Linked DNA regions of Homo sapiens. The protein of the gene in region 2 purifies or fractionates together with the protein of the main gene of each other region. This does not show direct contact. Each region holds a gene or a part of one and is shown on either strand. Other genes may lie near its edges. The genes, in order: PDCD11, ZSCAN32 and TES.

Evidence for each region.
Region 1: the proteins of ZSCAN32 (region 2) and PDCD11 purify together in Homo sapiens (affinity purification with mass spectrometry; one large-scale study listed by BioGRID and IntAct). This does not show direct contact.
Region 3: the proteins of ZSCAN32 (region 2) and TES purify together in Homo sapiens (affinity purification with mass spectrometry; 3 studies listed by BioGRID and IntAct, with this or other methods). This does not show direct contact.

Annotation. Positions count from the first base shown.
Region 1 is NC_000010.11:103,441,486-103,444,223, reverse strand, and holds part of PDCD11 (protein RRP5 homolog), read right to left. Parts: intron 2,399-2,738; coding exon 2,249-2,398; intron 2,015-2,248; coding exon of another isoform or gene 2,012-2,014; coding exon 1,764-2,011; intron 1,060-1,763; coding exon 891-1,059; intron 310-890; coding exon 156-309; intron 1-155. UniProt on the Homo sapiens protein: Essential for the generation of mature 18S rRNA, specifically necessary for cleavages at sites A0, 1 and 2 of the 47S precursor. Directly interacts with U3 snoRNA. Involved in the biogenesis of rRNA.
Region 2 is NC_000016.10:3,387,395-3,391,048, forward strand, and holds part of ZSCAN32 (zinc finger and SCAN domain-containing protein 32), read right to left. Parts: intron 3,124-3,654; coding exon 3,029-3,123; intron 2,790-3,028; exon of another isoform or gene 2,740-2,789; coding exon 2,616-2,739; intron 1-2,615.
Region 3 is NC_000007.14:116,216,920-116,220,573, forward strand, and holds part of TES (testin), read left to right. Parts: intron 1-3,654. UniProt on the Homo sapiens protein: Scaffold protein that may play a role in cell adhesion, cell spreading and in the reorganization of the actin cytoskeleton. Plays a role in the regulation of cell proliferation. May act as a tumor suppressor. Inhibits tumor cell growth.

The DNA.
Region 1 (2,738 bases), on a different chromosome or scaffold from region 2:
CATGCACTGTTATGCTGAGGGGCAGAGAATCAACAGGCAGCAAGAGGAAAGCCCTCACAAGGCTCTCCTGACTTAGAAGAAGCAATGCCACAGCCAGTTCCTACTCCCCGATCCTGGAGTGCTCATGGGCTCAGGAGCTGGGAATGAGCACTCACGCTCCTTGCTAGGCAGGCACTCCAGGGCTCGCTGCAGCACGCGGTGACTGGCTGCAGCCTGGCTCCTCCGCAGAAGGAAGGCGCCGTATTTGATCCACACAGCTTTCTCCTGCCGGAAACGCTTCAGCATCCGGTTGTAGAGTTCACCAGCTTCCTGTGGGAAAAGACGAGGCACGCTGAGGAGAGTGTGATACTACAGAGGGGACAAGACAGACAAGCAGCAACACTCACAAGAAGCTAGACCTGGGCTCCCAGACACCAAATCACTCTCAGGGCCTAATGCTAGAGACCTGAGAGGAGCGGGAGGGAGGCTCACAGAAGGGCACCGTGAACAGGCACAACACGACGGAGGGGATTCCCTGCTGATCCGCACCCATGGGAGGGCGGTCCTAGCCTAGAACATGAGAATGACAAGGGGGAGTAGGAGAGACGCCAGAGCGGATGCTGGGCCGGGACGTCCCCTTCTGTCTGTGATGCCCTGCCAGCAGCCCAAGGCAGACACACCAGGGGTCCACTGCCCCTTCACTTCCAAAGCCACTCCTTCCCTCACCTTGACCCCACAGGCCTGAAGAAGAGGTGAGGGAAATGACTTCTTTTACTTGGAAGATAGGGAAGTTGGGGCCCCGATGTTGGGTGGCAAGCTCACAGCAGGACTGGACCCAGCACCCCAGGGGCTCTTCTCTGAGATTGTGGCCCTGGAACTCCCAGGAGTTCGTCTGTGGCCCAACCTCCTACCTGGAATTTCTCTGACTTGGCGTAGATGTCAGCCAGGTGGAGAAAGACTTTGAGAGGCTCGTTGTACTGCACGGCTCGCTCAAAGACCTTGGTCAGGGACTCCTGAGAGCCGTACATGTTCTCCAGGTTCAGCAGAGCCACCCACACGTTCAGCTTCTCCTGCTCCTCTCTGGAGGGAGAGCAGTCAGCACATGAGCGCCACATGAAACCAGTGAGCCTCCCGCCCCATCCAGACAGACTCAGGAACCACCTCCCCCTCCCAGCCTCTATCTGTGTCCTCAGATCCCACCCCAAATGTAGACCCTAAGAGGCTGTGTCCCCACAGCTCCTGCAGCATTAGAAACCCCTGCCCCAACCCCAATGGCTGAGTCTGAGGCTCTCCTGGATTCTGCCTCCATTCCTAGAAAGGATGCCCACCAGATCCCAAACGGGCCTGAGGTTTGGGCTGGACGCAGAGTCCTGGGTCTGATTCTCTCTTCAAGCTAAGAGGATGAAGCAAAGGACTGCCTTCCCTCTTCATTAGGCCTCAAAAACTCCCTCTGTTTGGAAAACCACCACAGGGATTTCGCCCAGGTATGTAGTGAGTTCTTTTCTTACTGTGTTTCTGCTCAAACTGGTTCCCTCATATAAGTGTATGGACTCTTGTGAAGGTTACCCTTAGCAGTTTCAGGGAAGAAGACTATAAAATATAAATGAGTAGATCTATTTCACAGATGGCCGCAGCTATGGCAGAAAGCCTGAGGACCCATGGGCCCCTGGTGGCAGCCACCCAAAATGCTGCCGGCCTGCCTAGGAGGAGCTACCCCACAGGTTGAGAAACTTCCCAGCCCAGAACGTGCGAAGACACTGTGCTCCCTGGGGCAAAGCTGAGACCTGAAGGAGATGGTCTTAAGGGCCCTCTCAGCCACGGCACGGGCCTTCTCGATCTCCGTGGCCTGCAGGTGGAAAGCCATGTACTGCAGCCACAGAATGGAGCTGTTGGGGGAGCTCAGCACCAGTCGGTCAAAATCATCCGCGGACTCTGGCTGCCGCCCAGGATCCATCAGCGCCTCCTCAATGCGGGACAGTTCCTTCTCTGCCTTCTGCTTCTCCAACTCCCTTTCTTTCTTGCTTTTCTTTATCTGCTATGGAAAGCAGAAACACCGTGAGTCATCTGCTCCTCAAGGCCTAGGGGAGGTCTGTGGTGGAAGTCACGAGTTGGCTGGGCAGCCCAGGGCTCTATATATACCCCCTGGCCTGGGACTGGCCGCTGCCCCCTCCCCCACTCACCCAGGAAGACACCCAGTCTAGGAACAGAGCACAAGAGACTGACACCAAGGGGTCCCTGCAAAAAGGACATGCCCTGCAAAATACAGCACCGTGGCTTGGTGTGGCTTCTCATCCTCCTCGCTGTCTGAGCTCTCTGCTAGAGGTGGCAAGGCCGGGGTCAGAGAGTCTAGTCCCACATTCCAAGCGAAGCCTGAAGACAGCTGCAGCCGGGGCGCTTCTGCTGGCTTGGTTTGCTTCTCCTGGAGGAACACAGAGGCGCTAAAGAAAGCACCTGGCTCAGGCTGCTCCCTGTTCCCCCGTGCCAGCCCACCTGGAGGAGCATGGACTCCTACCAAGCCCAGAGACCCCTCCTCTCCTCTCCTCTCCTCCTAGGCCATGCCAGGCCCCAGCCCACTGGGGAAACTTTATAGCAGTGACATAAAAGTTTTCTTTGTAAATACATTTATTTAGATAACAAAATTTTCACACACACACATGCATATGCATACCAGTATATAAAATAACAGTAGAAGCCAGGTGTGGTGGCTCACACCTGTAACCCCAACACTTTAAGAAGCTGAGGCGGGCCGATCATTTGAA
Region 2 (3,654 bases):
GATACAGGAAACTAAATGACAGCAGTTAACACACCAAGGTAAGAATAAGTAGTAAACATCTGAGAAGAGCAGTTCAGGATGGCTGGCTACTAAATAACCCTCACCACACACACCTGCTGCCCATCTGGGCCAGTTCATGAGGACCGATTTGACTAGAGCTGTCCCAGCAAGTGCATTCCAACATCTGGTCATGATGCTCTGAAGCGCACCAGCCTCTTCTTGTCACCCCCTCTTCTCCACACTGAGCCACCATCACCTCATGCCTGGATCACTGCCATAGCCTATCTGGTCTTCTTGCTTCCACTCTGGACCTTCTACGGTCTACTTTCAACCCAACAGCCAGAGGGAGTCCCCTCCTTTGTTATTCAATTTAACTAACACTGAGTGCCTACAATGCCAGTTTCTGAGAAATATAAATATTACATGAACCCTGCCTTCAAGGAGGTCACAGTCCTATAGAAGTCTCTCCAGCAAAAAGAGACACAAATAAATGTTTACGTAGAGTTAAGTGCCAAATAAAGTGACATACTCAAAGTGGTCCTTTTAAAACTATTACTCCTCTGCCCAGAACCGCACAAGGCTCCCCCATTTCACTCAGAAGAAAAAAGTCCTTCATGTAGGGCCTCATGATCCCATATTAGTACTTCTCAAATTATCTATGAAGGACAGGAGTCTTGTGCTTATTTCTTTTGTAAAATACAATAAAAATGCAACCGAATAGTGCAGCAGTGTCAAATTGTTATAAAAGTTTCTAATTGCTCCCTCTCAGTCTCAGCTAGCAGCACTCATTTGATCTGGCTTTCTGAGCTCGTTTTCTCATTACTCATGGGTGTACTCTGTGCCAGTGAACTGGCATGCCCACCTCGCTCCAGCCCAAGTCATTGCGTCTGTCTTACACTCTTCCTCCATGTAGGATATGGCTGCATAGCTCATCCCTCCTCCTTCAGCAAGTCTTTTCAAATGTCATTTTCTCAGTGAGGGCGACCCTGAGGACCCAAACTGAAAACTGCAAACCAACCTCTGCCCTAGCACTCCCATCACGCTGCTCTGCTGCTGCTTCTCTCCCATTGCGCTTATCGCCCTCTAACATCTTCTGCCGCTTACTGATTATGCTATGGTCTGTCTCTTCCCACAGGGCAGGAATCTTTATCTGTTTGTTCACTGTTGTATCCCTAACGACCTAGAACTAGGTCTGAGATACTGTAGGCACTAAATTAATATTTGTGGAAAGAATGACTTGTCCTCTCACATTCTGTCTCAACTCTTACCTCTAATTTTAAAGGATCCTCAATGGTTGACAAGAAACCAAAAGTGTGTGGGGAATACAAGCCCTCATTCAATAAGCCTAATGTTGTAGCAGTTAAAATTACAGGTACCATTACATGAAATATTCAGAATAGCTCAATCCACAGAGACAGAATGAAGACTGGTGTCTGCAAAGGGCTTGCAGGGGAAGGACGGGGAGAAACTGCTGGATGGTTGTGGGACCTTACTTTGGAGAGATGGAAAGGTTCTGGAACTGGACGTGGTGGTAATTATACAACACTCTGAAAGTGCTAGAGGCCAAAGAATTGTTCACTTTACAGTGGTTAATTTTATGTCATGTGAATTTCACCTAATAAGTTAAAAATCACAAGTACAAAAATATTTATATCTCACCTTATTGTATTATCCATATATACTTAGTAATACAAATCTCAATACAGAGCTCAAAAAGACACTATACTCTCCTGCAACTGGACAGAGATGAGGTGCAGAAGCCTGAAGCAGCAGCAAGAAATGGCACATGATGAAGCCAGGAAACTGGGAGTTCCTGGCAAAGGAGGGGAGGGATGGCAGGGGCAGAGCAGGGAAAAACCACACACCACTGGGGAGGGCAACATTGTAGAGTGAGGCGGGGCACTGTCACAGGGCCTGTGTTCACAGCCTTGTGTAGTCCCTCCCACCCTGGGCTTAGCCAGGAGTACCCTGCATGTGAAGCAGCAGAGGAGAAATCTAGGCCCAGTGAGCTGCAGTGTCTGTCTCTGAATCTGCATGGTCAGGGAGGCTGCTCTGAGGAGGAGGCATTTGGCCCAGATGGGACAGAACTGATTTGAGAAAGGCAAGAGAGCGGTCTGCTTGGCAGAACCTTCCCCAAGTGTCCTGAGATGCTGGGAAAGGGCCTGGTTCCTCCCGGAAGGCCTGGGCATAGTAGACTGTCCTGGTTGGGTGGTTTTATTTGTTAATCTCCTCTGCCACTGGGGAAACTCGGGAGCGACTACTGCTACCTGTGTGCATGAGCGCACATTCAGCATGAACACATCTGTGCTCCTGGTGGCCACCTGTCTGGCTCCGGCTCTGGACTACTTGTTCTGACTCTGTCTCACTAACATTTTGCTTCTCCACCGCCTCACCCTTCACCTCCCATGTTCTTGACTGCCGGTCACACATGCTGCCCCTTTCTTTTGATCTCTGCCTGTGTCTCTCTGGCCTGCTCTGGTTCCCCATTTACTTCCTCCTTTCCCTCCACCCAACAGTCTCCCCACTCCCTCTGTCTCCCTCCCTCTCAAGTCCTTTCAGCCTCTCTGAACAACTGAACACATCCACCTTGACCTGGAGGGAAGATGGATCCTTACCCAGCGAGACGTGACTGTCCTTCCTCTGGGTGGCACCCCTGTAGAGGGCCCTTTGTGCAGGGCCTGGGCACATCCATTCTTGCTGACAGAGGGATACAGCTCTGTTGTCACGCATGGCTGGTCCCTGTAACAACACTGGAGCTGCTGCTACCGATAAAATAGCACCACTCTAGCCTGGGGTGGGGGCAGAGACAGGATCACAGTTGTCAGATCAGGGGCAAGGCAAAGGCAGGGGAGGTCAGCTCCCAGTGGGACAGGTTCTGAGCCATGTGATGATGTCAGAGTGGACAGAATCAAAATAACCCGAGAAGCCCCATGGACCACACAGAATCTTTCTCATGTCTCTGGAAAGGAGGAGGGTTTTGGGGTGAGAGTGGGTACTCAAGAGACAGAAGGCATCAACCACAGCTCACCTGGGACCCAGCTGTCCAGACCACAGCACCTGTCTCCTGGTCGTGGAGACCTGTGTTTTGAGGCAGGTTCCTGGGAGCCTGAGGAGCAAGCCAGGCTGGGGGAAAAAACAGCCGCTATTAGAGGGCGGCTTCCACACAACAGCACAGAGCAGAAGCTCTCAAAGTGGGCTCCTGGGCCAGCCGCATCAGCAGCCCCTGGCAACCCATCAGAAATACAAATTCTGGGGCCCCACCTCAGATCTTCTGAATCGGAAATTCTGGAGGTGGGGCCTAGGACTCTGTTTTATCACTCTCCCACCTCCGAATGAGTCTGAGGCAAACTCAAGTTTGAGAACCACTGCCAGCGCTCACGGCCTCTGTGAGTTGAGAAGTTCCTTTCATGAGATTCCTCTTGGCATAAGAGCTTTAATTTTTTTTTCATTTTAAAGAAAAATATACATGTCAGGGAAAAAAAGAGAATCGTAGTGGGCAAACAAAAATCTCTCCATAGCCCTGCCACCCAAAGATAACCAGAGTACTCTTTAAAATACCACAGTAACAGAAACCCTTCATATTTTTCACACCAAGATAATACATTTTTTCTCAAGTCTCCAACTTCAAGAATTGTACAAATATGACTGTGACAT
Region 3 (3,654 bases), on a different chromosome or scaffold from region 2:
AAAATAAGGCTGTTAAAATAATTTTAAAAGATTAAAAAAAAACTATATGAGTGCTTTTTTACGTACCATGCACTGTTCTAGACTCTGGGGTTATAGTTGTGAACAAGAATGACACTGAACTTAAGCTTGTATCATAGAATTATGCTATTGCAAGTGTTGATAGAGCAATGTAAATATTGAAAGTAAGCACAACTGGAATTATACCCGTCAGTGAACTCTTGATAGGTTAGCAGTACGCTATGTTTCTAACACAGACAGTGAGCAATTTTGATGGTGATCCCTGGGCTTGATTCTTGGTTTTGCAAACTTTGTAATTAGGGATTCTTATTTCATTTGTCTTAAGTAATAGCAAATGTAAAAGATGGGAAAATGAGAAAGCAGCTTTTATGTATTAGAATGTGAAAAAGATTATGAATGCATAAAGCTATACAAATAGACTTACACCTATAATATACACAAACTATAAGTCTTCTCCCTGCCTACAAATGCCTTACAAAAGAGTCATTCTTGGATTTCCTGTTTGCAGTCATAGCTAATTTTTGTTTGGTAACTACTGCCATGGTAACCAAAATTATGATTTTAAAAGAATTGTTTATTAAATCATTAATATACAGGAAATTATTTTACTTTTTACAAGGTGGTGGTATCCAGAGAAATTATATTATTAATTATGAAATCAACTTTTTCTAGGAGAGGAAGATAAGGAAACAAAAGACTAATCAAAAACATTGCAAAACTGCAGATTTTCAGGATTTTAAAGAAAAATAATTTGGTAATTGATAACTTCACTACTGTTCTTTGAGTAAATATCCATGTTTAAAATTTGCCTCAAGCACTATTAGAGGATTAAATTTAGAGGTTATGCTTTTCAACTGCCCAACTACAATCTTTGACTCTCCTACAAAAGAGCTGCCATTTAGCATGGTTTTGTCAATTTTCAGTTCTAAGTGCCCTGTCTACCTAACATTCTAGTTAGATAATGGGGAATTAGAGCGATAAGGATATGCATGACTATAATTTTCTAAGTATCACTGTATTTATTTTGGTCAAATTCAAAAAAGTAAAAAAGCATAGTTTAGAATTGCCAATTTCTCTGTTCCTTAGTCTGTTAGAATGGTGGGGAGTCGGCTCAGATTTGAGCATGGCTTAAAGTGGGAGAGCGTTATTAGAAGCCAGCCTAGTGGGGATTGCTGAGATCTCATCTGCTGAATGACAGCAAAGTTACTACTCTGTAAATATACTTAATCTGAAATGCTGAATTATCCTCAAACCATGAGTGATTCAGCTTGTGTTTATCATTGTGACATTCTGGCCACTGTGAAAAGCTGTAAACAGGAGTTTCAGGGTGTTCATTGCATAGCTTATCTGAGCAGCGAGCCCAGCAGAAAAGATGGCATTCAGCCCAGCAGAAATGCCTTGATAAGGAGTCCATTAATGCATCTCTAGCCACAATGAACTTTTCCCTTGCTTTGTTTGATGATAAAGTGATATCATGTTTCATTGAAAAATGACCATGTAGATGTTAGGTGGATTTTTGTTTTTATATGACCACAACGTGACAGTCTTAACAGAATGAGTCACAAAGTAAGGATCAAGGATCTGATTTTTCCTTTATGAGATACTGGCCTACAATAAAAATAACTGGGGGTTAAAAAAATTACCCTTTGTTTTTCGTAGAGAATATTAAAAGTGCAGTTTAGATTTAAAACTACAGACTCTAAACTCCATATCTATCAGTATCACCTCTTGAGCAAAATACCGATGTCACCTTTGATAGATTTTTTTTTAAAAAAGGAAGGAAGATGAGTGAGCAAAACAGATGTGTAAGTTAACTACAGTGCTGGATAGAATGACATAAGTGCTATAATACAATTTCTTATCTGGGATGAGGAACCTTTTTATAAACAAAAATTAATCATTGGTTGATATTTTTAAAAACACAATAAAAATTTATTACTTAAAAGACAAATACAGGGCCAATTAAAAAAATTATTAAATGCAAGAGACACAAAATTACTTTAAGTATATAGTAGTTCCTAATTGCCTACTGTCAGTTTCTCTGCCTATCTCATCACAGACTAGTGACTTACACTTTGTGAACTGCCACTTTGAGTAGCACAGCAATAATAGAAATACAAACAACTGTTATGAAGTCTTAGAAGCAGAAGTAACTAACTTTAATTGTGTGGGTTGCGATTATTTTATCAAGGAAACACCTCCTATAGAATAAAGAAGCTTTCATTAGGCAAAGAAAGCATTCCATAAAGAGGAAATAGCATGAACCAAAGGTACCTGGCTGTGAAAAGTCAGTAAAACCACCCTTGACATTTTCAGTTTTGTCTCTTCTAAAATAAAGCTAAAGTAGATGAGCTGCAGTAATTTGTAATTTTTCCACAGTACAGGTTTGAATTAAAGAGGTATGTCACTGAGCTAGTATAAGACCCTAGCCCACAGCTGAAGAGTTTCTGATCTCCCTTAACTGTGATGATTATTTAATACATTGTGTCATCTATTGAGAGAGAGGAGGAAATTTCACAGTAGAGTCTAGCTCATTTAGGCTGGTCTGGACTCTGAGCTGTGGACTGGGACCACAATGTTGCCAGGTTTTCATCCTTCTTAGATCAGTGAAGCCAACAGTAAAGGTCATGCCCAACTGCAGGAGCACCTTTTAAGCCTCTTCTTATGCCAAAGCAGTCACATGTCCAGTTCTGAAGTCAAGGAGAGAAGTCCAGTCTAGCAACTATGAGGCTAGGGCAGGGATATGATGTTGAATACTATTACGTGGGAATGAAGGATTGGGACCATTACTTCAGTCTACCACGTGTGCTATAGAGGGACAGTTGAATGTAGGGGCTTGAGGATACTTTTCTGAAGATCTTTCATGTATCAAGAGTATTCTGAGATGATATTCTGTATGGTATCAGACTACACGTTTCAAAGCAGAGTAGTTTTTGGTCATTCTGAAAAACTGTAGAGGAAAGTTAACTTTGCAGTATCCCTTACTTGATATTTAGGGTTTCCTTTTTTTAATCTGGTCACTCTTCTGTTAGCTTTGAAACATAGGCCTCTCCAAATTCATTCCAGCCGGGTCATGTGACTTCCGTGTTAAACGAAGACATGTAAAACTCATTTCTTTGGGAAATGGCAAGTTGCCTAAGGTTTTGAAGGGGAATTACAAAATATTACCTTTTATATACTGCAACAAATGGAAAATATATTCTGTGAACATTCCAATAATATGTGTTAGACTCTATCTTTGGTAATGGAATAGAAGGTTATCCCAAGATAATTGGCAGAATTTAAAGGTAAAAAGAGGCAAGACAGATTTCAGTGGCCTAACTCCACAGCTCTTTTAAGATGTCCCAGGTAAACCAGTAGTGATGTTATTCATTGTTACTTTCTCATGGACCAGATAAAATTAAGCCAGAGGGTAGGATCATCCTGTGGACCACTGTTGCCCACTTTTCTCTAACAGTTAGGGAATTTAAAGGAAGCAGCGCAGACTTTGACTTTTCCAGACATAGATTTGGATCCCACCTTTGATATTTACTCAGTAATTTGGCAACAGTTGCTCCTTGGTTTCAGAGATCTAATCTGCAAAACATGGATAGTACTTCTTTATTGGATTATTGTGAAATTAAATAAAGTAGTACA